Regions from separate parts of the Homo sapiens genome. Here all the other regions are linked to region 3. The links come from fine-mapping of genetic effects on gene expression. A gene starts in region 3. Each other region holds a variant in brackets. All regions are shown on one strand. Distances are between the middles of the regions. Region 1 holds the start of LOC105371574 (a long non-coding RNA gene). Region 2 overlaps ALDH3A2 (aldehyde dehydrogenase 3 family member A2). Region 3 holds the start of SLC47A1 (solute carrier family 47 member 1). Region 4 holds the start of LOC105371578 (a long non-coding RNA gene). Region 5 has its middle 31 kb from the start of TRW-CCA2-1.

Region 1 (5,000 bases), 70 kb after region 3:
CTGCCGTGTTGACTCTGATTAGCTCCAGTCCCAGGAATGCCTCCTGATTCCTACACTTAATCAGGAACACCATGGAACACTGGTGTTCCATGAAAGGGCCTGGACTTAATTTCCTGTCCTTAGTGTGAGAACGTGTCAACCCTGATGTTATCACACAAATTCTAGGCTATGATGCACAGCATTCCTGCCTGCTCTGGATTGCTGCCATTGTCTCTGTAGAGCAATGCACACTTTCTCCATGGTGTACAAGCCCTGGGTCTGGGAGTGTGGACACCTGTCTTGCTGTCACCCAAGACCATGCTTCTGCCTTAAATTCCCCAAATAAACCACCCTTTGCTGACACACTGGATGTGTGTGCCTTGTTCTTTGGTTTCTCAGCTCCTTCTGCGTTTGGGGCTGCTTTGCGTATGTGGCCCTTTCACAGAGCACCAGTGTTCACACAGCACATGGGAAATATGATCTCATTGCTCTCCTTGCCACCCCCCCCCCACTTTTTTTTTGAGATGAAGTCTCGCTCTGTCACCCAGGCTGGAGTGCAGTGGCGTGATCTCAGCTCACTGAAACCTCCGCCTCCCAGGTTCAAGCAATCCTGCCTCAGCCTCCCAATAGCTGGGATTAGAGAGATGCACCACCACCCCCAGCTAATTTTTGTATTTTAGTAGAAATGGGGTTTTGCCATGTTGGCCAGGCTGGTCTTGAACTCCTGACCTCAGGTGATCCACCCGCCTTGGCCTCCCAAAGTGCTGGGATTACAGGCATGAGCCACTGCAACCAGCCTCATTGCCCCTTTCTGACCTGCTCATAGCCTAAGCCCAGGCTAAAAGTGAAACAGGAAAACCAGTCCCCATTCTTCACCCCACAGAAGCCTGGGAGCTAATCCTGATGTTGTAAATGGGATATGGGGAACCTGAGGTGATGGGGAGAGAGTGTTGAACAAGCCTGACTCTGTCCAAGCCAGGCACAGGACCAAAGGACCTGAGTCGCTGACGTCAGAGAGTGCTTTACTGGGCTTCTCAGTCTTGTGTGACCCTGGGCAGGTTTTTCGTCTGGTCCTTTAGGCTCCGAATAAATGATGGCAAAAACTTGGTCTCCAAATTCTATGATGACTTCACCAGAAGATTCGTATAAGGATGTTCATAGCAGCTTCATTCATAGTATCCCCAAACTGGAAATATCCCAGGATTCCACCAATAGCAGAATGAAAAGCAATCTGTGGTCAGGCACACAATGGAACACTGCTCAGCAATAAAAGCACCGCTGGCACACACAGCCTCACGCTGCACAAAAAGAACATAGTTCCCAACGGAGAACATATTGTATGAGCCCATGAATAGGAGGTTCCAGAATAGGCAAAACTTACCCAGAGTGGGAGAAAAGCAGAACAGTGGTGGTCTTTGTGGGGACAGAAGCCTTACCCAGGCAGGAGCAGAGTCGCAGAGCACAGGAGCCATGGATATGGTCCCAGTGAGGATGCACTGCTGGCTGCATGTGCCTGGCCAGGGTGTTCATATCACTGGGGGGGACAGGCTTTGTGCTGGCTGCTCCCCGATGAGTAAATTAACATGTGGACTCACTTAGGTGGAGAAAATGTACTCAGTGAGGCTGTGAGTGCCAAGCGTGTCTTTCCCCTCTCCTGCAAATCCAAACTTACTCATTAGGGCTCTGAGTTTTTGTTCCTAGGCTTTATTTACATTTTCTTCTCCGGCTTGTGCCACGTGCAGTGAACACGTGTCACATTGCAGTTTTCTACAGGGTTCCTCCTTGGAGGTTTTCTTTTTTCTTTTTTTTTTGAGATGGAGTTTGGCTCTTGTGGCCCAGGCTGGAGTGCAATGGCATGATCTCGGCTCACCACAACCTCCACCTCCCGGGTTCAAGTGATTCTCCTGCCTCAACCTCCCGAGTAGCAGGGATTACAGGCATGCGCCACCACGCTTGGTTAATTTTTGTATTTTTAGTAGAGACAGGTTTTCACCATGTTGACCAGGCTGGTCTC[A/C]AACTCCCAACCTCAGGTGATCCACCTGCCTCAGCCTCCCAAAGTGCTGGGATTACAGGCATGAGCCACCACACCCAGCGGAGGTTTCCTCTTCCTACTCAGGTGTTCAGTACACAATGCTCTGTCCCACACCCTGGCTTCTATTCCCCTGTTGCCCAGGTGTCCTGAGGCTCTCTGGATGTGTTAGGTCATTCTTGCATTTCTATAAAGGAATACCTGAGGCTGGGCAATTTATTGGATTGGTGCAAACATAATTGCAGTTTTTGCTACTTTTTCTTAATGCAAAAGCTGCAAATTACTTTTGCACCAACCTAATATAAAGAAAAGAGGTTTAAGTGGCTCACGGTTCTGCAGGCTGTACAGGAAGCAGGGCACCAGCATTTGCTCAGCTTCTGGGGAGGTGTCAGAGCTTTTACTTGTGGTGGAAGGGGAAGTGAGAGCAGCATGTCACATGGGGAAAGCAGAAGCAGAGAAAGCATTGCACCAGTGAAGCTGCACACTTAAACAACCAGACCTCAGCAGAACTCACTATCACGAGGACAGCACCAAGCCACGAAGAATCTGCTCCCACGATCCAAGCACCTCCCTCCAAGCCCCACCTCCAACATTGGGGATTACATCTCAACGTGAGGTTTGGGCAGGGACAAACATCCAAACTCTATCATTCTGCCCCTGGCCCCTCCAAATCTTATATTCTTCTCACATTGCAAAATACAATCATGCCTTCCCAATAGTCTCCCAAAGTCTTTTTTTTTTTTAGACAGTGCCTCACTCTGTTGCCCAGGCCGGAGTGCAGTGGCACTATCTTGGCTCACTGCAACCTCTGCCTCCTGGGTTCAAGTGATTCTCATGCCTCAGCAATCCGAGTAGCTGGGATTACAGGCATGCGCCACCGTGTCTGGCTAATTTTTGTATTTTTAGTAGATGCGGGGTATCACCATGTTGGTCAGGCTGGTCTGACCAACTGGCTTCAAGTGATCCACCTGTCTTGGCCTCCCGAAGTGCTGGGATTACAGGCATGAGCCACCATGCCTGGCCCCAATAGTCTCCCAAAGTCTTAACTCATTCCAGCATTAACACAAAGTCCCATGTCCAGGTCCAGAGTTTCATCTGAGACTCATTTCCTTCCTCCATCTATAAGCCTGTAAAATCAAAACAAGTTATTTACTTCTAAGATACAATGGGGAAGTGGGCATTGGGTAAACATTCCTGTTCCAAAAGGGAGAAATTGGCCAAAAGGAAAGGGCTACAGGCTCCAATTAAGTCAGAAACTCAGTAGGGCAGTCATTAAATCTTAAAGCTCCAGGCTGGGCATGGTGGATCATGCCTGTAATCCTAGCACTTTGAGAGGCCGAGGCAGGTGGATCACTTGAGCTTGAGAGTTTGAGACCAGCCTGGACAGCATAGCTAAACTTCATCTCTACATATATATACACACACACATATATATAATATTATATATATAATATATCATATAATATTAATATTATATATTATATATAAACATACACACACATATATTATACATATTATATATAATGTATAAACATACACATATATATTATATATATAAACATACATATATATATATAATCTGGGTATGGTGGTGTGCACCTGTGGTCCCAGCTACTCAGAAGGCTGAGGTGGGAGGATCGTTCGAGCCTGGGAGGTGGAGGTTGCAGTAAGCCAAGATCACACCATTGCACTCCAGCCTGGACAACAGAACAAGACCCTGTCTCAAAATAACAAAAAACAAAAACAAAACAAAAAAAACTTAAACTCTAAAAGAATCTCCTTTGACTCCATGTCCCACATCCAGGGACACTGGCATGAGGTCTGGACTCCCAAGGCTTTGGGCAGCTCCGCCCCTGTGGCTTTGCAAGGTTCAGCTCCCGTCGCTCCTGTCACAGTTTTCTGGGCACAAGGGTACAAGCTGCCAGTGGCTCTACCATTCCAGGGCCTGGAGGACATTAGCCCCCCTTCCCAGAGCTCCACTAAACAGTGCACCAGTGGGGATTTTGTGTGTGGGGCCTCCAACCCCACATTTCCACTATTCCACCTCTTCGGAGGTTTTCTCTTTCTACTCAGGTGTTTGCCACATGGTGCTCTGTCCCACACACTAGTTTCTATTCGCTTGTTGGCCAAAGGTCCTGAGGCTTTCTGGTTGTGTTAGGCCATTCTTGCATTGCTATAAAGGAATACCTGAGGCTGGGCAATACTGTGCTAGTAGAGGTTCTCTCTGAGGGCTCCAGCCCTGCTGTAGGTTTCTGCTTGGGCACCCAGGCTTTCTCATACATCCTCTGAAATCTAGGGGGAAGCTGCCAAGCCTCATTCACTGTTGTACTCTGCCAGCCTACAAGCTTAACACCACATGGAAGCCACCAAGGCTTATGGCTTGCACCCTCTGTGGCTGTGGCCCAAGCTGTCCCTAGGGCCCTTTGAGCCATGGCTGGAGCTGGAGCCTCCCTAAGTGGCACAGGGCACACTTCAGGCTGGGCCCATAAAACCATTCTTTCTTTCTAGGCCTCTGCACCTGTGATGGGAGGAGCTTCCTTAAAGGTCTGTGAAATGCCTTTGAGGCCCTTTTCCCATTGTCTTGGCTGTTAATTAGCACTTGGCTCCCTTTCAGTTATGCAAATTTCTCTAGCAAATGATTATTCTGCAGCCTGCTTTAATTCTTCCCCTGATAGTGCTTTTACTTTTTCTGCCACATGCTCAAGCTGCAAAATTTCCAAACTTTTATGCTCTGCTTCCCTTTTGAATATAAATTTTAAATATAAGTCACAATGGGCCATCTGTGACATCATGCTGGGGCTGCTTGCCCACTTGGCTCCCTCTAGGGAAGTACTCCCAGCTGCCCACAGTCATCCTTCTCCATCCCACTGACCTTCCACCCGTGACCAATCAGGAGATGTTTCCAGTTTATTGGTGAATTTATTAGGGCTCAGAGAGGATGACCTATCCAAGGTCCCACTGCCAACTGAATGTAGGACAAGTCTCTGAACCC
Region 2 (5,000 bases), 140 kb before region 3:
ATTTCAGAAAAATGTAATTACAATAAATAGACTATTCAGGTAAATATACAGTACAGATTCAAAGTCATTTATTTTAAATAAAAGGTAATTTGATAAAAAGAGGATTAAAAGCTCAGAAAGGAGCAGAAAAGCAGCAAAGTGGAAAAGAAAACCAAATCTCTACCTAGTTCCAGATTGAATCCAAAGAAATATTAACAACTATTAGTAATGAGAATTGAGCGGAAGGGTTGAAAGTGGCCTGGGGAATCACTGACACCTACTCCCTCACCCTGTAGATGAGCAAGCTGAGGCCCAAGAAAGAGCTCAGAAAAGGCCTTGCCCAAGTTCATTGAGCCAGGAATCAAACCACATTTTTTTGTTTCTGCTAAAGGTTTTATATATTGCTGCTTCTTTTATATATTGCTGCTTCTCTAGACCCTCACAGAGAAACATGCCTGCCAAACCCTTTGGGAACTCGAACCTGCCTGGCACACTGCACTGCACCTGAGGGAGGCTTCTTGGGGGTTTGGTAAGATTGGAGAATGCAGACTCAGCCTGGGCCTCCGTATTTTCCATGAGGCTAAAATATTCTATCCTACCAAGATGCATTATCAAACTGAGGAACCGAGGTCTTGGGAAAAGAACAAAAGAGACAGATATTGACCAGAGACCCAAGTAAGCTTCCGACCACACCTCCAGCCTCAGGAAGGCAAAGAAAGTAGCCCCTAAATTGTATACTACACCTTGATTTCACGACATTTGCTGCCATGAATTCCAAAGTCAAACCTTTTTTTAAAAATGAAAACAAATCAAAACTACTTAGTGATTTAAAAAACATATTCTTAAATTATGACATAAAGAGTTCAGTGCCTAGATGGTGACAAGTCTGAATTAGTCAGCTGGCACCTCCCCCAGGAGAGCTGAGTAGAAGGGGAAGAGAAATGAGGCTCACACTCAGCTGCCCTTTTCCAAGAAATGATGTATGCTTCACCTGGACGCAGCTAAGCCATTGCCTCTGCACACTTCTCTTAGATTCCTAGCAAGTCACTTCACCCTTTTAAAATTGTGGATAAGTGGAGTTTTAACACCCTGATACTCTGGGCCCAGGTCCAAAATGTCTAGAGATAAGTAAGTTAAACATTCTTTTTTCTTTCTTTTTTTTTGGAGACGGAGTCTTGCTCTGTCACCCAGGGTGGAGTGCAGTGGCACAATCTTGGCTCACTGCAACCTCTGCCTCCCGGGTTAAAGCAATTCTCCTGCCTCAGCCTCCCTAGTAGCTGGGACTACAGTCACGTACCACCACACCCAGCTAACGTTTGTATTTTTAGTAGAGATGGGGTTTCACCATGTTGGCCAGGCTGTTCTCGAACTCCGGAACTCAGGCAATCCACCTGCCTTGGCCTCCCAAAGTGCTAGGATTACAGGCGTGAGCCACTGCGCCCGGCCCATTCTTTTTTCAATAACCCTTAAGCCTCCAACTGTAGCAAAAAAAAAACAAAAATAAAAACAAAAACAAAAACAAAAACAAAAACAAACCAAAAAACCCTTGAAAACATACCCCAACTTGGCCCACCTTACATATAGAAAGAAAACAAAAAGTTCCTACCTCACTCTTAACAGACAGGGCTGGGTTTTGAAATCTGGTGTTCATCTCTGCTTACTGGACCAACGCAGTCTGTGAACTACCAGAAAAATCAACAGGGCCTTTCTCCTCAGCACAGCTTGGTATTTCTGAGAAAACCCAAATGATTTCAAATGCAACTGGTATCTCCAATTCCACTAAGGCTGGGATACTGTAAGATGAGCCAAACCCCTTTCAAATTTTTGTTGTTGTTGTTGTTGAGATGGAGTCTCGCTCTATTGCCCAGGCTGGAGTGCAGTGGCATGATCTTGGCTCACTGCAACCTCCACCTCCCGGGTTCAAGTGATTCTCCTCCCTCAGCCTCCCGAGTAGCTGGGACTACAGGTGCGTGCCACCATGCCTGGCTAATTTTTGTATTTTTAGTAGAGACAGGGTTTCACCATATTGGTCAGGCTGGTCTTGAACTCCTGACCTCGTGATTCCCCTGCCTCAGCCTCCCGAAGTGCTAGGATTACAGGTGTGAGCCACTGCGCCGGCCCCCTTTCAAATTTTAAACAAAACATAAACACAACTATTACCATTGCCTTTTCCAAGCCCATTCTTCACTGATATGGTCAATATTTTCAATGTTATATCCTCAGTTGAACGGCTGAGGGCACCACAGACACAATTGCCTTCCTCATTCCATCTTAACTTTAATTACGGATTTCCTCTTTCATCTCAAAATACGCAAACTGCTTTGAGAAGGCAGCTATCATGAGGGCCTCTTTGCAAGCCCATCCCTATAATGACTAATCACCAAAGATAAACTTTATCAGGTAGTGAACTTTGGAGGAAAAAAACTCAAGCCTAATAAAATATCCCTCACCAAAGCTGTTGTACCAGAGTTCT[T/C]GCCTTCACCTCTGTGGTAAGCTGATTTCATGCACATTCAAGAACAAAGCTGTAAGTGACAAGGAAAGTCCAATACCAAAAGGATCAAAGGGCTAACCCTTTGATCAGACAGCTCAGAATTCTGCAATCAAGTTCTACGCTGTTTTAATCTCTTAGACCAGAGATCAGCAAACTTTTCTGTAATAATTTAGGCTCTGAGGGCCATTCAGCCTCTGTTGCAACTACTCAGCTCTGTCACTGTCCCATGAAAGCAGCTGTGGATGATTAAACAAGTGGGTGTGGCTGTGTTCCAATAACTTCAGTGACAAAAACGGGTAGCTGGCCAGCAGGCTGTGGTTCACTGACCCTGTCTTAGACTCTACAAGTTAATGTAGAGTCCTGCTAGAATATGCATCTGGCAGCCATCAGGCCAGGACCAGACTGAATGGCACTCATGGGTTATAGGGACTCACCTTGACAAGCACAGCGGCTACAATACCCAGGAAAGTGAGCAACAGGAGACCGAGTTTTTCTTTGTTGAACCGTTTCAAGAGAAAAAATTTTCCCCAATCCACCTTTGACTGGCTGTTGGGAGGATATCTGAGTTTGTTAGCACCTTCTCTCTTTAAACTTTTTAATAAACAGGGACGCTGATGAGAAAAAGTATCAAAACTATGTTTTCCGTGATAAGCTCCCATCCCACTGGAACCTGAAATAAAGGGAACAGACAAAACAAGCTTCACTGTAGATGATGCAAGCTACTTCTGTCTAACAACGACCGGGAAAGCTCACATGCACTCCCTGCTGCCTGGGAACCCCACTGAACATCTCTGCCAGCTGAAGTATCTCTTTTCAGGAAGTCCTTACCAACTTCCCTGGAAAAGTCAATTTCCCTGTCAAACAGGATGCTTTCCATGAGCAAGACAAGGACTTGCACCTCTTCTAGAGCTGTGGCTCTCATTTATGCCAGGGACTGTGCTAAGAGTTAAATCATTCTCTTAAGATAATTCTCACCACAATCCCACTTGGTGAATTATCAGCAGCCTCATTTCCAGAGAGGGAAAGGGAGCTTACAGGGTCAGTTAACCTGCCCAGGGTCACACGGCTGCTAAGTGGCAAAGCCAGAACCCGAACCTGGATCAGACTCTAAATGCTATATGTGCTCTCTTCCCACCATCCCATGTGGCTTCATTCATCCATGGCCCCACACACCCACTTGCTTTCTCAAAGCCTGTGGAAAGTAAGACAGGGCAACAAGGTTGCACAGCTGGATGATAATAAGCAAGTGTAAATCTCTGCCCTCCACAAAGCCATGCTCTGTGACAGTTTCATTTCTCTAATTCATTGTGTGTACAACAGACTGACAGGCACAAAGCGGAGCAGTGTGAGCTGGGCAGAGGGAATGGCATGTGTGATATAAGACACAGGTGACCAGAGGCCAGGGAGCAGTTTACCAAGGCCAGGCTGCAGGAAGGAATCATTCATGAAGCAGGCCTGGTGTGAGAAGAGACCCAAGGACAAGACCATGAGAAACCCTAACTCTGAGGGAGGGTAAAGAATGAGGGAGGGGGCCGGGTGCGGTGGCTCACGCCTGTAATCCCAGCACTTTGGGAGGCCAAGGCGGGTGGATCACAAGGTCAAGAGATCAAGACCATCCTGGCCAACATCGTTAAATCCCGTCTCTACTAAAAATACAAAAATTAGTTGGACGTGGTGGCGCACGCCTGTAGTCCCAGCTACCTGGGAGGCTGAGGTAGGAGAATTGCTTGAACCTGGGAGGCGGAGGTTGCAGTGAGCTGAGATCGCGCCACTGCACTCCAGCCTGGGCGACAGAGCGAGACTCCGTCTCAAAAAAAAAAAAAAAAAGAATAAGGGAGGGGCGAGCCAAAGACATAACCAAGGTAGTAAGAAACTGGGAAAAATTTGGGAGGCTGATGCAGGAGGATTGCTTGAGCCCAGGAGTTCAAAGTTGCAGTGAGCTATGATTGTGCCACACTGCATTCCAGCCTGGTCAACAGAGTGAGACCCTGTCTCAAAAAATAAATAAAAAGCAAAAAACTGACATGAAGGAAATTACAAAGTTTTGTTGAAAGATATAAAAGGGCTATATAAATGAAGAGATGATATAACATATTCCCATTAAGACTCCACATTTTAAAGATATAAATTCTTCCCAAAATAATTTAAGTTTAAATCAATTTTAATAAAAATCCTAGGGGATTTCGGAAGGTTTTGTTTGTTTGTTTTAAGTAGGAGGAGGTAGTGATTCCAAAGATCATCTGGAAAAATAAATTTAGATAAGAACAAGCAAGAAAACATCGAAAAACAGTAATAATGAGGAGCTTTTACTTTTAGGTATTGAAATAGTACTGTGTCCTAAAGAGCAAACTACTGGATTGGTTGAATATGTGGGTTTTGGAGCCAGACAACTTTGGCTCATTTCTTGGCTTTACTACTTATTAGTTGTCTGTCTCTAAAATGCGTGCATTTGACCGGGCACGGTGGCTCACACCTGTAATCCCAGCACGTTGGGAGGCTGAGGTGGGAGGATTGCTTGAGCCCAGGAATT
Region 3 (5,000 bases):
AGCAATAACAGGCTGGGCAAGGTGGCTTATGCTTATAATCCCAGCTCTTGGGAGGCCGAGGCAGGAGGATTGCTTTAGCCCAGGAATTCAAGCAATGGGCAACACAGGGAGACCCTATCTCTAACCCAAAATACAAAAATTAGCCAGGCATGGTGGTGTGTGCCTGTAATCTCCGCTACTCCAGAAGTTGAGGCTGCAGTGAGCTGTGATCACACCACTGCACTCCAGCCTGGCCGACAGATCAAGACCCTGTCTCAAAAAATAATAATAATAATAAAACAATAATAGCCTTAGAAAGCCCCTTCTCACAGCAGCTCTGTGAGGGAGTGTTGAACCAAGACATGATTATTATCTCCATTTTACAAATGAATATGCAGAGACCAGAAGAGGTTAGGAGGCTGTTTCAATCTGCACAGCTGCTTCCTGACTTACTTTCGGAGGTCAAAGCAGGGCACGCAGCCCCAGGTCTTGAGATTCCAAATCATGAGGTGTTTTTTTGCCCAGGCTGGAGTGCAATGGCGCGATCTGGGCTCACTGCAACCTCCGCCTCCCGGGTTCAAGCGGTTCTCCTGCCTCAGCCTCCCAAGTAGCTGGAATTACAGGCGCCTGCCACCATGCCCAGCTAATTTTTATTTTTTATTTTTTGTATTTTTAGTATAGACGGGGTTTCACCAGGTTGGCCAGGATGGTCTCAATCTCTTGACCTCGTGATCCGCCTGCCTTGGCCTCCCAAAGTGCTGGGATTACAGACGTGAGCCACCACGCCCAGCCATGAGGTGTTTTTGTTTTGTTTTGTTTTGTTTTTTGAGACCAAGTCTTACTCTGTTGTTCAGGCTGGAGTGCAGTGGCACCATCCTGGCTCACTGTAACCTCCACTTCCCAGGTTCAAGCGATTCTCGTGCCTCAGCCTCTGGAGTAGCTGGCACTACAGGCGCCCGCCACCACGTCTGGCTAATTTTTGTATTTTTAGTAGAGACGGAGTTTCACCATATTGGCCAGGCTGGTCTCGAACTCCTGACCTCAAGTGATCCATCTGCCTCAGCCTCCCAAAGTGCTGGGATTACAGGCGTGAACCACCGCGCCCAGCCCCAAATCATGAGTTCTTTCTGGTCTGTGAGAAAGCATGGCTGATGGATCTTATTCCATGGCTTTGACCTCGGCATTACCCTTGCTGTCCTGCACACCACAGCGGGTGCCACAATATCCCACAAACTACCGAGCCCCCACTCCAGAGGCACAGCGGCCCCCCTCAGCCCGCGCAGGTGCAGAATGTGGGCCTCAAAGTCAAAAGCTTATTCACGCCTTAAGTGCATACCAGTTGCTTCTTGTGCCGCGTCCTACCCTCTCGGTTTGAAAACCACCCAAGCTGGCAGGAGAACGTGGATAGGATTGTGTTTTTGTGGTTTTTAAAACCACATTATTTTTAGGAGACAAGGCAGAAACAGCCCTAACCTAATGATTAAAAAGAAAAGAATCCCACAGATAAGAACACCTCGACCCCACAAAGAACCACATTAAAACCCCTTTTTTCTTTCACATACATAATTACTGGCGGGGAGGGGGTGGTACAGGATGCCTCTGGTTTCCTCGGTAGAGGTTGACTGAATTCTGAAGAAATCATTTCGCAGCTCTGAGTCCACGACAGACCACGCACCCCCTCCTCCGTGCCTCGGGATTATTTAGATCGCAGAGCTCCCGAACTTTTGACCGCTACTTTTCAAAGAAACAAGTTCCCTTGTGTTTTGAAGTTCAGGCAACTTGCGTTTTATTGGCCGGAATCAGCTCCCAGAGAAGGCACCCCCGGATGCAAATGCAGCCTGGACCTGGTAGAGCCCCGTTAGGGGCAAAGGTCCCAGCTCTCCGGTGTCTCCTGGCGCAGGAGGCTGGAGCCGCCGGCCTCTCCGAGCCAACATGCGCCCGGGCGCGTACCAGCCGTTCCCGCAGTGCCCCGCGGGGCCCCCAGTCGGGTGGTGCGGAGCGGAAAGCGGCCGGGACGCAGGCAGAGGAGCTGGGGTGCCCGCCCGGCTCCTGGCACGATGCTCCCCGGAGCCCGCCGGCGGACAGCTCGCTCGGTCCCCAAAGCCCGCCAAAGTCACCCGCGGAGGCAGAAATCACCAGGTCCCCAGCCCGCCGGTACCGGCCTGCCACTGAGGCCACCTTACTCACCGCGGGGCCAGCCAGGACCAAGAGCGCCCGCAGCTCTTCTCGGAAGGCGGACAGCCGCAAGCAGCGCGACCCACGGACCTCAAGGGTGGCCTCCGGGCCTCCGCGCACTGGCGCGGGCTCCTCAGGAGCTTCCATGTGACTCGCGCGCTGCGGCCGGGTAGCGCGGAGGCCGGCAGTGGGTACCGCGGAGGCCGGCAGTGAGTACCGCGCAGGCCGGCAGTGGGTACCGCGCAGTGCAGCCTGCTCTGCAGTCCCCGCCCCGGCCGCCCGCCCAGAGCCCGCCCCGCGCCTGGCGCCCGGGGGCCCGACTGAGCGCGCAGCCAGGCAGCCTGCGACCTTGGGCGCGCCCCTTGCACCTCTCTCTGCACCACTGCGGACGCCTGCGGGTCTTGCAAAGACCAAGGAACTCCTGCACTTGGAAGGCAAAGTTTGAAAAAGCTCTGTAAACTAACGGAACGCGCTCCGGGGGCTGGGTCCTCCACGTCTCGGACGCCAGGACTCACCCCGGCTCTCCACCTCCGCTGGGGGTTTCAGGTTCTGAATGACCTGGCGTGGAAGGACCCAGAGGCCTCGAGCCGTGACTCGGTTAGCACCCCGCGGGGTGTGTGGGGTTGGGCGCATTTGCTGTGCAGATTGAGTTGGGTACACCCTTTGATGCTGGTTAGGGTGTTGCATACTCCTCTCCTCTCATCAGTTGTTCCATTAGAGAACTTAGAATCTACCAGGATAGAGCAACATGCTCCCATTTGCCAAGTAGCACAGTTTGTGCCAGCTGGTCGTGTTGGAAGTTTATCCATCAAGCCTGCTGTGGGAGTACGAGAGGCTGCGGCCCAGAAGGGCAGGAGCAGCGCGCTTTCCTCCCAGAGCCTCAGCTTCCTCATCTGCAAACGTGAAAGAACACTCGTCGCCAGCTGTGAAGACTGGGGTTGCCTGGGCGGAGGACCGGAGTCAGTGCCACCTGCCCTCAGCCTGGCACCAGCCGTTACCTAATAAGTGTCAGTTACCAGGACAAGATTGATTTCTCTAATAGTCAAAATTCCTTCCGTTGTAATGATCCAATGTAAGTAGAGAAAATGGAAAACAAATTTTTTGGCTCACATAATCAGGAAGTTTGGATTCAGGGATTTGAAAACAAGGTCATTAGGCCAGGCGCGGTGGCTCACGCCTGTAATCCCAGCACTTTGGGAGGCCTAGGCGGGCGGATCACAAGGTCAAGAGATCGAGACCATCCTGGCCAACATGGTGAAACACCGTCTGTACCGAAAATTAGCTGTGCATGGTGGCGCGCGCCATAATCCCAGCTACTAGGGAGGCTGAGGCAGGAGAATTGCTTGAACCCGGGAGGCAGAGGTTGCAGTGAGCCGAGATCTCGCCACTGCACTCCAGCCTGGTGGCAGAGGGAGACTCCACTCAAAAAAAAAAAAAAAACAAAACCAGATCATTCTTGTTGTCCCTCTTCCCATCTCTGTCCCTCTCCTCCCTTCTCCTCGCCCCTTGGGATTCTTTCCGTAGTTTCTCTTCCTCCTCTGCCGGCAGCCTTTCTCTTCCTGTGCAAGTGACAGTGGTGGCCTCTGATACCCTCGTTCCTATCTTTCCCGTCTGTTAAACCAGAAAGTAAGGCCCTCCCCTCCTCTCTTCTGGTTCCAAACTAACAAACAAAAAACTGGGAGAAAATCTGGTTGGCCCTGCTTAGGTTTCTTGCCCACCTCTGGAACAATCGCCCTGGGTGGGAAAATAGGGTCTGATGTTTGGCTGGCCCTGGACCATGCACCCAGCTTTGAACCTACAGGGTTAGGGTTAGGTGCCCTGTGACTGGTCTCGTCCCACAAGGACTGTACATATGGAGTAGCGCAGTTTCCCAAAAGAACTGAGAGTGTCAACAGACAAATACCCGAGGATATTCACTAGATCTCTGATCACTGCTGTTTTTTGATAATTTTCTGGAAGTCCTGACTGATGTAATAAGACAGGAAATGGAAATGTAATGTATAATGTTAGGAAAGAAAAGGCAAAGGGATTACTCACAGTAGAAATTGACAGACCGGGCCAGGCACAGTGGCTCATGCCTATAATCCCAACACTTTGGAAGGCCGAGGTGGGAGGATCACTGGAACCCAGGAGTTTTGAGACCAGCCTGGGCAACACAGTGAGACCCCATCTCTTAAAAAAAATCCACACAACCCAAAGAAATAAAATATGAACAAAAGCTAATAGAATTGATAAAGGGGTTTAATAAAGTTGCTACATAGAAGTTCTTCAACAAGTCATATCAGTCCTTTATATTGGTAATAACATATATGAAAATACTAAAAGAAATCTTTCACAATAGCAACAAAAAACAAAAGGTCCTCGTGATACAGAGCATAACTCCTCACTCCTTAAAGGTGGATTGTACACAGTGACTTCCTTCCAAAAAGTAGCACAGGAAAATTAATTTTCAATTAATATATTAGGTTTTAGTCCACTACTGTGTATTCCATTATTTTAAAATTTAATAGAATGATTCTAAAAGCAATTGATAGTGTAAACAGGAAAAGATATAACAAAAACTCTGAAAAAGAAAAGTAAGGAGGAAAGAAGTAGCTCTATTGGCTGGTAAATAGCTTTTAAAACAACGTGTGGTTGGCTGAGCACATTGTACAGGTGAGTAGCCCACACCTGTAGCCCCAGCACTTTGGGAGGCTGAGGTGACAGGATCGACTGAGCCCCGCAGTTTGAGGCTGCAGTGAGCTATGATTGCACTACAGCACTCCAGCCTGGGCAGCAGAGTGAGACCCTATCTCAATAAAAAACAAAAAACAAAACAATTAAAAGAACAAAGAACCCTGTTACTT
Region 4 (5,000 bases), 37 kb before region 3:
CTCACTAACAGCCCCTCCAGTCCTACCTAGACAGGCCTGTCCAAGGGCTGAGGGAGTCATATCTTACCTGGGTGAAGCGGATCCTGAGGGAGAGCAGAATTCCCACTCCGAGGCACGTTGTTTACTTTCAAATTGGCGTGTACCTGAGCCTGGAAAATGAAACTCAGTCCATCAGGCTTCACAATAGTGTTAATATGGTATTTTACTTGACCACCTAGTTTAGGAAGAGCCAAGCCATTTTCCTTAATTGGCATGTATAGCTGAAGTTCCTCTCATTCACAGGTCATCTTTCATAAAGATTGAAATGGGGCCAGGCTCAGTGCTCACACCTGTAATCCCAGCACTTTGGGGGGCTGAGGAGAGAGGATTGCTTGAGCCCAGGAATTCAAGGCCAGCCTGCGCAACACAGCAAGATCCCATCTCAATTAAAAAATTAAAAACAAAAAAATAACAACAACAACAAAAAAAACAGCCAGGCATGGTGGCGCATGTCTGTATTCCCAACTACCTGGGAGGCTGAGACAGGAGGATCACTTGAGCCCAGGAGGTTGAGACTCCAGCGAGATGTGATCCTGCCACTATAGTCCAGCCTGGGTGACAGAGTGAGAGCCTGTCTCTTAAGAAAAAGAAAACAGAAAAGGCTGAAATGGGGTCCATGAAAGGGAAGGTGGGATGGGAACAGTACAGGGTGAGGGAGACAGGGACAAGAGAGGGACCAAGATCATTTAGAACTCTCCCTTTTTACTTTATCTCTTTCTTTTTAAAACATTTTTATTTGTAGAGACAGGGTCTCGCTCCATCACTCAGGCTGGAGTGCAGTGATCACAGATGACTGCAGCCTCGAACTCTAGGGCTCAAGCGATCCTCCTGCCTCAGCCTCCTGAATAGCTGGGACTACAGGCATAAGCCACTGTACCTCGACTCATCTCATTTTTCTACCACCTATTTCTAGACCTCACACTGACCCTAGAAAGTTGAAGGGAAGGATGCACACAAGTATCTTAACAAAACATTTGGAGACCATAAAAACAACATCAGGATGACTTTGATGCATCCCACATTTCTCTCCAGTTCTAATTCTTGTCCTGAAATTGGATTTTCCTGCACAAGGGTGACAGCCTGGCATGGGAGACAAGGAAGAAAGGAGTCCCCTGTTTTTCTGGGAATAGATAAAGCCAGGATCATCTGGCCCTTCACATCTGAACTGTCTAGTTAAAACAACAAGAACAATAGTATTCATGAGATAAGAATAAAGAAAATGAGAAAAGAACTTTCCAAAAGAAAAAAGGGAGAGCCAGATCAGATCCTGTTTTTCTAGGAGAGGAACCTTTACCGGGACAGAATGAACATAGTTACCTGCTGACAGGCTTTTTTCCAATTTAGCTGAATAATAAAGCCTAGAAAACACACAGCTTGAAAGACTGTACAGATGATGATCCCTGACCACAGACCTAGAAATAGAAATATTTAATAGAGGTTAATTCCATAGAAAACCAGCTGCCCCTGGGGAGTATGTTTTGCCTATATCACTTCTGTCAGCCATACTGAATATCTGCTTTCATGGCTGAGGTGGAGCCCACAGCGGGCCAGAGACCTCTATCCTGCTCCTCCTCAGGCTTCCAGAAGGTTCCAGAAGGTTCTGGAAAGCCCAGTACTCCTTGAGGCCACCCCCAAAAGGGCCATCTCTTTTGGTTCAGGATTTCGGAACAAATATTCAGAGGATATTTTTGGCCTTACTGATTATAATGCTTGAATATTAAGAAAAATGCCAGTTATAAGGAAATTAAAATTTCCCAGGACCAACTACTTCTGCCCTGGTTTCCTCAAAAAAGGGGACTAACATTAAAAAAAAAAAAAGCAGAAATCACTAGCCATATAAACTACTAATGTTCTCTTCCTCAGAGTTCCTGCCAGACCTTGGACCTTAACTTGCTTCTGACACAGACTTTGCTAGAAGCTTCCAGAGCAGGGCTGAGCACCTACAGATGACTGGAGAACACCAAAGGCAGGCCAGGTGGGAATGGATGGCGGGAAAAGCCCTGTGAATCTCAAGGCACCACACAGGGCACAGAGGGAGACCCCAGGTGAGGAGGGTTTTTTGGTCAACAGTAAACTAATGGCAGAACCAAAAGCTCCAACAATAACCAAGAGACAAAGTCCTGACCGTAATAAAAACAGACCTCTGCCTCACAACCTGCAGCACCCTGCCCAAGAAACCCCACCCCATCTACAATAAACCCAGGAAGCCAGCCTTCCCT[A/C]AATCAGACTTGCAGGAAGCAAGATCGCTGCCTTTGGTAACAATCCAGGAAGCTAACCAGTAACTTCTGTAACGATTGGCCCCAGATGGCCAGGACTTGATTAGCAACTGACAGCTTGCCTAATTTTGGTCTGCACTTCCAACTTAGGACCAACCAGAGAAAGTAAAATACATCCCCCTAACCAATCACATGGGAGGCCCATTTCTAGTCAGCCACCTCCAGCATCCCCCAGATCAACAATCTCCACTCAGGACACACCTGCAGCCTCCCCTTTTATCCACTGTGACGCTTTCCCACTCCTTTGCCTGCCTTTGAGTTTCTGCCCAAATGCAAGTGGTGGCAGCCAACACCCTTGCTGAGAATACACAGACTTTGCTTGTCTTGCTTGGTTGGTCCTGGTTTATTTCCACAGCTGTCCAGATCTATGTAAGGGTTAAGGTGGCTAGTCTGGGTTCCTGGTTTATGGATTCGGTACAGGTTTTACAGCTCTGTTTCTTGGTACCAATCACATTTTTCAGGTATGATCAGCCTGCCCTTTTGTTTGTTTGTTTGCTTTTTAGAGTCAGGGTCTTGCTCTGTTGCCCAGGCTGGAGAGCAGTGGCATGACCACAGCTCACTACAGCCTCCAACTCCTAGAGTCAAGTGATCCTCCTGCCTTGGCTTCCAAAGCACTAGGATTATAGGTATGAGTCACTACGCCCAGCCTAGCCTGCTCTTAGAATAGTATAGTTGGTGCCACCTGCTAGTCCTATAAAAAATTAGTAAAAGCAAGCTACTGGCTTCCTCTTTCAAATCCAGTGTTCTCAGTACATAGAAACTACAAGCTCACCTGAACCACCTTAAACAGGAAATAACCAGCTAACTCCAGCTATAATTTGAAAGTTATGAATTAGATTTCCAATAATTTTAGCATACATCATTTAAAAGATTTCTATTTGACCCAACCTATGAGCCCAAAGTGGGATGATTATTAGATCTCATGGGCAAGGCCCAGGAATTTACATATTTAAAATGTCTCCCAGGGATTCTGAGGGTCATTATGATTTCCTGAGGTTGCTTCTGAGAACCTGCAGAATTCTGATGCTCTCCTAGACACCTTGTATAGGTATACTGCATACCATACCAGGAGACACAATACTCAAAACCAATTCGTACCACAATTTCTTCTAATAGGTGGGTGGGGGGGATTGACTATAGGCTTCTCATAGAGCCCTCACATCCCCAGGGCCCCCACCATTTCTTTTCAGTGATTCTCAACTTCCTCTTCTACTTTGCACAATTAGTTACGCTTTTTTTTTTTAAGGTAGAGTCTCACTCTGTCGCCCAGGCTGGAGTGCAGTGGTGCCATCTTGCTCACTGCAGCCTCCGCCTCCCGGGTTCAAGCAATTCTTGTGCCTCAGCCTCCCAAGTAGCTGGAACTACAGGCGCACACCACCACACCTGGCTAATTTTTGTATTTTTAGTAGAGACGGGGTTTCGCCAAGTTGCCCAGGTTGGTCTCAAACTCTTAACCTCAAGTGAACCACCCACCTCAGCCTCCCAAAGTGCTGGAATTACAGGCATGAGCCACTGTGCCTGGCCTAGATATATTCTGTTAAATGAATAGGTGAGCCAAGGACGGCACTTGGGATACAGATGGATTTATATTTCAAAGCAGGTTCCTCATGCCTGTAATCCCAGATACTTGGGAGGCCAAGGTGGGAGGATCACTTGAGTCAAGGAGTTTGAGACCAGCCTGGGCAACATAGCAAGACCCCATCTGTAAAAAATGAAACAGGAGAATAAAGTAGACTCCTCTTCTAAAAAAGTTGAACTCATAGAAGTAGAGAGTAGAATGATGGTTAGCAGGGACTGGTGGCAAGGAGGGGAGGGCATGGGAATGGGGAGTTGTTAAGGTACAAATTTCTGATAGACAGGAAGAATAAGTTTTGAGATCAATTGCACACCAGGGTGACTGTAGTCAATGTACTGCACATTTTGAATTAACTAAGTAAATTTCAAATGTCTCACCATAAAAAATAAGTGGTGATAAGTATGTTAATTAGCTTAATTTAATCATTCCACATTTTATACATATATCAAAACACCACACTGTACCCCATAAATGTATACAACTATAATTTGTCAATTTAAAGTTTAAAAGATATAATATAGAGAATTTAAATTATTTCCTTAATATTTTATACTGATTGCACGTTGCAATAATTTTAGACATATTGTGTTACATAAAATACATTACTTTAAAAATAAAAATAAATTAGATTTCTATAATATTTGCATTAGCTAGGCAATTGGCAAATCCAAACTATGAATCGCACCAGAAACTCAGCTAAATAATTTTCTGCACTATCATGCAAGCCCAATGAACTTTGCATTGGCAATACTATTCTTTGAACAACTCCTGTATTTTTAATTAAAATATTATTGAACTTGAGAAAAATGTGCCACATAAAGGAACATACTGAACTGGAAGTTCCCTGTAGGTATCAGTTGACTTCTCACCACCTCTGAGCCTGCCAAGTACAGATGAATCAAAACAAGCCACGCTTTAAGTCAGTCACTACTCACCCCAAAGATAAATGTCCAGGTTTTCATATCATCATTTATTAACTGCCAATATGTTCCAAATTATTATTTTAGAAATCAAAGCTGGGCAGTCATTTATTTCCGTACTTTTTAAAAAGATTAGCTCTGGTAATTTCAGATGCTGTGGATTAAGTTTTTTCTTCCAAATGTGGGAAG
Region 5 (5,000 bases), 57 kb after region 3:
TGTGGTGGGACATACCTGTTTTCCCAGCTACATGGGAGGCTGAGGCAGGAGAATTGCTTGGGCCCCAAAGGTGGGGGTTGCAGTGACCTGAGATCATACCTCTGTACTCCAGCCTGGGTGACAGAGTGAGACTCCATCTCAAAAAAAAAAAAAAAAAAGAAGACATACATACAGTAGCCAGTAGGTATATGAAAGGGCACTCAACACCACCAATCATTAGGGAAATACAAATCAAACCCACAATTAGGTATCACCTCACACCTGTTAAAATGGCTATTATGAAAAAGACAAAAGAACATGTTAGTGAGGATGTGGATCTAATGTACAGCAATGTGAATGTAGTTAACAATAGTATATTAAAGACTTGAAATGTGCTAAGTTGGTAGATACAACAACAAAAAATACTCTAGAAAAAATCAAACACAAGAAACCGCAGTTAATGAACTAATTGAAGGAGGAGAGAGATGTAGGGCATATGGAAAACAAATAGCAAAATGTCAGAAGTTATTCTTTATAGGCCAGGCGCAGTGGTTCACGCCTGTAATCCGAGCACTTTGGAGGCTGAGGCAGGTGGATCACTTGAGGTCAGGAGTTCGAGACCACCCTGGCCAATATGACGAAACCCCATCTCCACAAAAATACAAAAATTAGCTGGGAGTGGTGGCATGTGCCTGTAATCCCAGCTACTCAAGAGGCTGAGGCATAAGAATCGCTTGAAACTGGGAGGCGGAGGTTGCAGTGAGCCAAGATTGCACCACTGCACTCCAGCCTGGGCAACAGAGCAAGATCCTGTCCCCCGAAACACCTGCCCCAGAAAAAGGGCTGAGGCAGGAAGATTGCTTGAGCCCAGGAGTTCACAGTTACAGTGAGCTATGGTCACACACTTCACTCTAGCCTGGGTGGCAGACCAAGACCCTGTCTCAAAAAAACCAAAACCAACCAAACAAAACAAACTAACTTTACCACAGACAAATTGGAACATTACATACAGATGGTCCCCGACTAAAATGATTTGGATAAAATTTTCAAGTTTATGATGGTGGGAAAGCAGGACACATTCAGTAGAAACCATACTTCATACTTTTGATTTTTAAAAAAATTAAACAAAAATATTTAGTGGCTGCCAGGACCCCCAGTGCAGGGCACGGTGGGCCTGGCCAGAGCCGCGGATTAGAGGCCCTGTTTTTCACTTTCAGTACAATATTCAATAAATTACATGAGATATTCAACACTTTATTATAAAATAGGCTTTGTGTTAGATGATTTTGTCCAACTCTAGGCTAATGTAAGTGTTCTGAGCTTGTTTAAGATAGGCTAGGCTAAACTGTGATGTTTAGTAGGTTCAGTATATTAAATGCATTTTCAACGTACCAAATTTTCAACTTACAATAAGCTTATCAGGATGTAATCCCATTGTTTAAGTTGAGGAGCATCTGTATTGACAAAATTCATCCAGAAGAATAACAATTATAAATAATATATGTACCTAGCAACAGAGTCCCAAAATACATGAATTGAAGGGATAAATATAAAGCTGTTAATAATAGTTGGAGACTTCAGTACCCCACATTTAATTAATTAATTAATTTATTTATTTATTGAGACGGAGTTTCGTTCTCGTTGCCCAGGCTGGAGAGCAATGGTGAGATCTCGGCTCACTGCAACCTCCACCTCCTGGGTTCAAGAGATTCTCCTGCCTCAGCCTCCAGAGTAGGTGGGATTACAGGTATGCGCCACCATACCCGGCTAATTTTGTATTTTTAGTAGAGACGGGGTTTCTCCACGTTAACCAGGCTGGTCTTGAACACCTGACCTCAGGTGATCTGCCCACCTCAGCCTCCCAAGGTGTTGGGATTACAGGCGTGAGCCACTGTGCCCGGCTCCACCCACTTTTAATAGATAGAACAATTAGAAGAGCAAGAAGAAAATAGAAGGCTTGAGCATCATTATGAATCAACTAATAGACACATTTAGAACACTCCACCCAACAACAGTAGAACACATATTCTTCTCCATTCTAGAATTAGAAATGAAGGACTAGAATGAATGGGGACGTTACTACCAACAAAAAGGATTATGAAGGAATACTACGAACACTTAAGTGCTAACAAATTAGGTAAGTTAGATGAAATGGGCAAATTCTTAGAGACACACAAATTACCAAAACTGACACAAGAAACAGAAAATATGAATAAACTTATAACAAGAGATTGAATTAGTAAACTACCCACAAAGGAAAGCCTAGTCCCAGAGGGCTTTACAGGAAAATTCTCCTGAACATTTAAAGAAGTAATATAAATTCTTTACAAACTCTTCCAAAAGACAGAAGAAGAGGGAACATTTCCTAGCTCATTCTATGAGGCCAGTATTACCCTGCTACCCAAATCAAAGATATCACAAGAAAAGCAAACTACAGATCAATGTCTAATCTAAATATAGAGGAAAAAAATCCTCAACAAAATCCAGAGCAAACCACATTCAGCAAAATGTAAAAAGAGCTATATGACATGCCTAAGTGGGATTTGTCCAGGGAATATCAGGCTGGTTTAAAATCCCAAAATCAATTAATGTAAGACACCATATCAATAGAATCTAAAAAATCCAATAGACATGGAAAAAGCATTTGACAAAATCCAACACCCTTTCACAATAAAGTCTAGGAAAGGGAAGTCAGCATCCAACAGTCTTGGAATAGCGTGGGATTTTTATTTTTATTTTTATTTTTATTTATTTTTTTATTGATCATTCTTGGGTGTTTCTCGCAGAGGGGGATTTGGCAGGGTCATAGGACAATAGTGGAGGGAAGGTCAGCAGATAAACAAGTGAACAAAGGTCTCTGGTTTTCCTAGGCAGAGGACCCTGCGGCCTTCCGCAGTGTTTGTGTCCCTGGGTACTTGAGATTAGGGAATGGTGATGACTCTTAACGAGCATGCTGCCTTCAAGCATCTGTTTAACAAAGCACATCTTGCACCACCCTTAATCCATT[T/C]AACCCTGAGTGGACACAGCACATGTTTCAGAGAGCACAGGGTTGGGGGTAAGGTCATAGATCAACAGGATCCCAAGGCAGAAGAATTTTTCTTAGTACAGAACAAAAAAAAAGTCTCCCATGTCTTCTACTTTCTACACAGACACAGCAACCATCCGATTTCTCAATCTTTTCCCCGCCTTTCCCCCCTTTCTATTCCACCAAACCGCCATTGTCATCATGGCCCGTTCTCAATGAGCTGTTGGGTACACCTCCCAGACGGGGTGGTGGCCGGGCAGAGGGGCTCCTCACTTCCCAGTAGGGGCGGCCGGGCAGAGGCGCCCCTCACCTCCCGGACGGGGCGGCTGGCCGGGCCGGGGGCTGACCCCCCCACCTCCCTCCCGGACGGGGCAGCTGGCCGGGCGGGGGGCTGACCCCCACCTCCCTCCCGGACGGGGTGGCTGCCGGGCGGAGACGCTCCTCACATCCCAGACGGGGCGGCGGGGCAGAGGCGCTCCCCACATCTCAGACGATGGGTGGCCGGGCAGAGACGCTCCTCACTTCCTAGATGGGATGGCGGCCGGGAAGAGACGCTCCTCACTTTCCAGACTGGGCAGCCAGGCAGAGGTGCTCCTCACATCCCAGATGATGGGCGGCTGGGCAGAGACGCTCCTCACTTCCCAGACGGGGTGGCGGCTGGGCAGAGGCTGCAATCTCGGCACTTTGGGGGGCCAAGGCAGGCGGCTGGGAGGTGGAGGTTGTAGGGAGCCGAGATCACGCCACTGCACTCCAGCCTGGGCAACATTGAGCACTGAGTTAACGAGACTCCGTCTGCAATCCCGGCACCTCGGGAGGCCGAGGCTGGCGGATCACTCGCGGTTAGGAGCTGGAGACCAGCCCGGCCAACACAGCGAAACCCCGTCTCCACCAAAAAAATACGAAAACCAGTCAGGCGTGGCGGCGCGCGCCTGCAATCGCAGGCACTAGGCAGGCTGAGGAAGGAGAATCAGGCAGGGAGGTTTGCAGTGAGCCGAGATGGCAGCAGCACAGTCCAGCTTCGGCTCGGCATCAGAGGGAGACCGTGGAAAGAGAGGGAGAGGGACACCGTGGGGAGAGGGAGACCGTGGGGAGAGGGAGAGGGAGGGGGGAGGGGGAGGGAGAGGGAGCGTGGGATTTTTCTAAAGGGCACCTTAAGAAAAGCCTACAGCTAACATTGCACTTAATAGTGAAAGACAGATGTTTTACCCCAGTCCTAAGATCAAGAACTTAGAAGACCATCACTTCTTTTAAACCTTGTAGTAGAGATTTTAAACAAAAACAAGAAATAAAAGTCATCTAGATTGGAAAGGAAGAAGTAAAACTATCCCTATTCCAGATGAATCCACAGGATATGCAGAAAATCCTAAGGAATCCACTAAAACGTTTTAATTCCACAAGTTTGCAGGATAAAAGATTGCTATGCAAAAATCCATTGCTTTTTTTTTTTTTTTTTTTTTTTTTTTTTCAGACAGATTCTCACTCTGTCGCCAGGCTGGAGTGCAGTGGCGTGATCTCAGCTCACTGCAACCTCCGCCTCCCAGGTTCAAGCAATTCTCCTGCCTCAGCCTCCCGAGTAGCTGGGACTACAGGCGAGCGCCACCACGCCCAGCTAATCTTTGTACTTTTAGTAGAGATGGGGTTTCACCATGTTGGCCAGAATGGTCTTGATCTCTTGACCTCATGATCCGCCCACCTCTGCCTCCCAAAGTGCTGGGATTACAGGCATCAGCTGCTGCGCCCAGCCAAATCCATTGTATTTCTACATACTAGCAATGGGCTGGGTGTGGTGGCTCACACCTATAATCCCAGCACTTTGGGAGGCCAAGGAGGAGTGCTTGAACTCAGCAGTTCACGACCAGCCTGGGCAACATAGCAAGATCCCATCTCTTAAAAAAATGTTAAAAAAAAGAAATTAAAAATAAAAAAATATATACTAGCAATGAATAATTCAAAAATAAAATTAAGAAAATAATTACATTTTAAATATCCTCAAAAT

The links. PIP is the estimated chance that this variant, and not a neighbour inherited with it, causes the effect. A credible set is the group of variants that fine-mapping cannot tell apart.
Region 1: its variant is the best candidate, but not a certain one, in a credible set for the expression of SLC47A1 in whole blood (TOPMed, PIP 0.55).
Region 2: its variant is the best candidate, but not a certain one, in a credible set for the expression of SLC47A1 in whole blood (INTERVAL, PIP 0.68).
Region 4: its variant is the best candidate, but not a certain one, in a credible set for the expression of SLC47A1 in whole blood (TOPMed, PIP 0.71).
Region 5: its variant is the best candidate, but not a certain one, in a credible set for the expression of SLC47A1 in whole blood (TOPMed, PIP 0.58).

Annotation. Positions count from the first base shown.
Region 1 is chr17:19,460,806-19,465,805 of GRCh38, reverse strand. It overlaps LOC105371574 (a long non-coding RNA gene), which reads left to right and starts at 4,835. Exons shown (of 3, transcript NR_188341.1): 1 at 4,835-5,000. RefSeq lists enhancers at 2,353-2,898, 4,539-5,000. The variant A/C (reference allele first, on the strand shown) is at 1,994.
Region 2 is chr17:19,669,861-19,674,860 of GRCh38, reverse strand. It overlaps ALDH3A2 (aldehyde dehydrogenase 3 family member A2), which reads right to left. Exons shown (of 10, transcript NM_000382.3): 9 at 2,905-3,140. Among named protein-coding and RNA genes, the nearest start is that of ALDH3A2, 24 kb to the right of the region's middle. The variant T/C (reference allele first, on the strand shown) is at 2,453.
Region 3 is chr17:19,531,241-19,536,240 of GRCh38, reverse strand. It overlaps SLC47A1 (solute carrier family 47 member 1), which reads right to left and starts at 2,387. Exons shown (of 17, transcript NM_018242.3): 1 at 2,167-2,387. The coding sequence starts at 2,301.
Region 4 is chr17:19,567,929-19,572,928 of GRCh38, reverse strand. SLC47A1 (solute carrier family 47 member 1) reads right to left here. Exons shown (of 17, transcript NM_018242.3): 15 at 1,357-1,451; 16 at 68-149. LOC105371578 (a long non-coding RNA gene) reads left to right here and starts at 1,451. Exons shown (of 3, transcript XR_934310.4): 1 at 1,451-2,084. The variant A/C (reference allele first, on the strand shown) is at 2,259.
Region 5 is chr17:19,474,435-19,479,434 of GRCh38, reverse strand. No RefSeq gene overlaps it. Among named protein-coding and RNA genes, the nearest start is that of TRW-CCA2-1, 31 kb to the left of the region's middle. RefSeq lists an enhancer at 3,492-4,329. The variant T/C (reference allele first, on the strand shown) is at 2,987.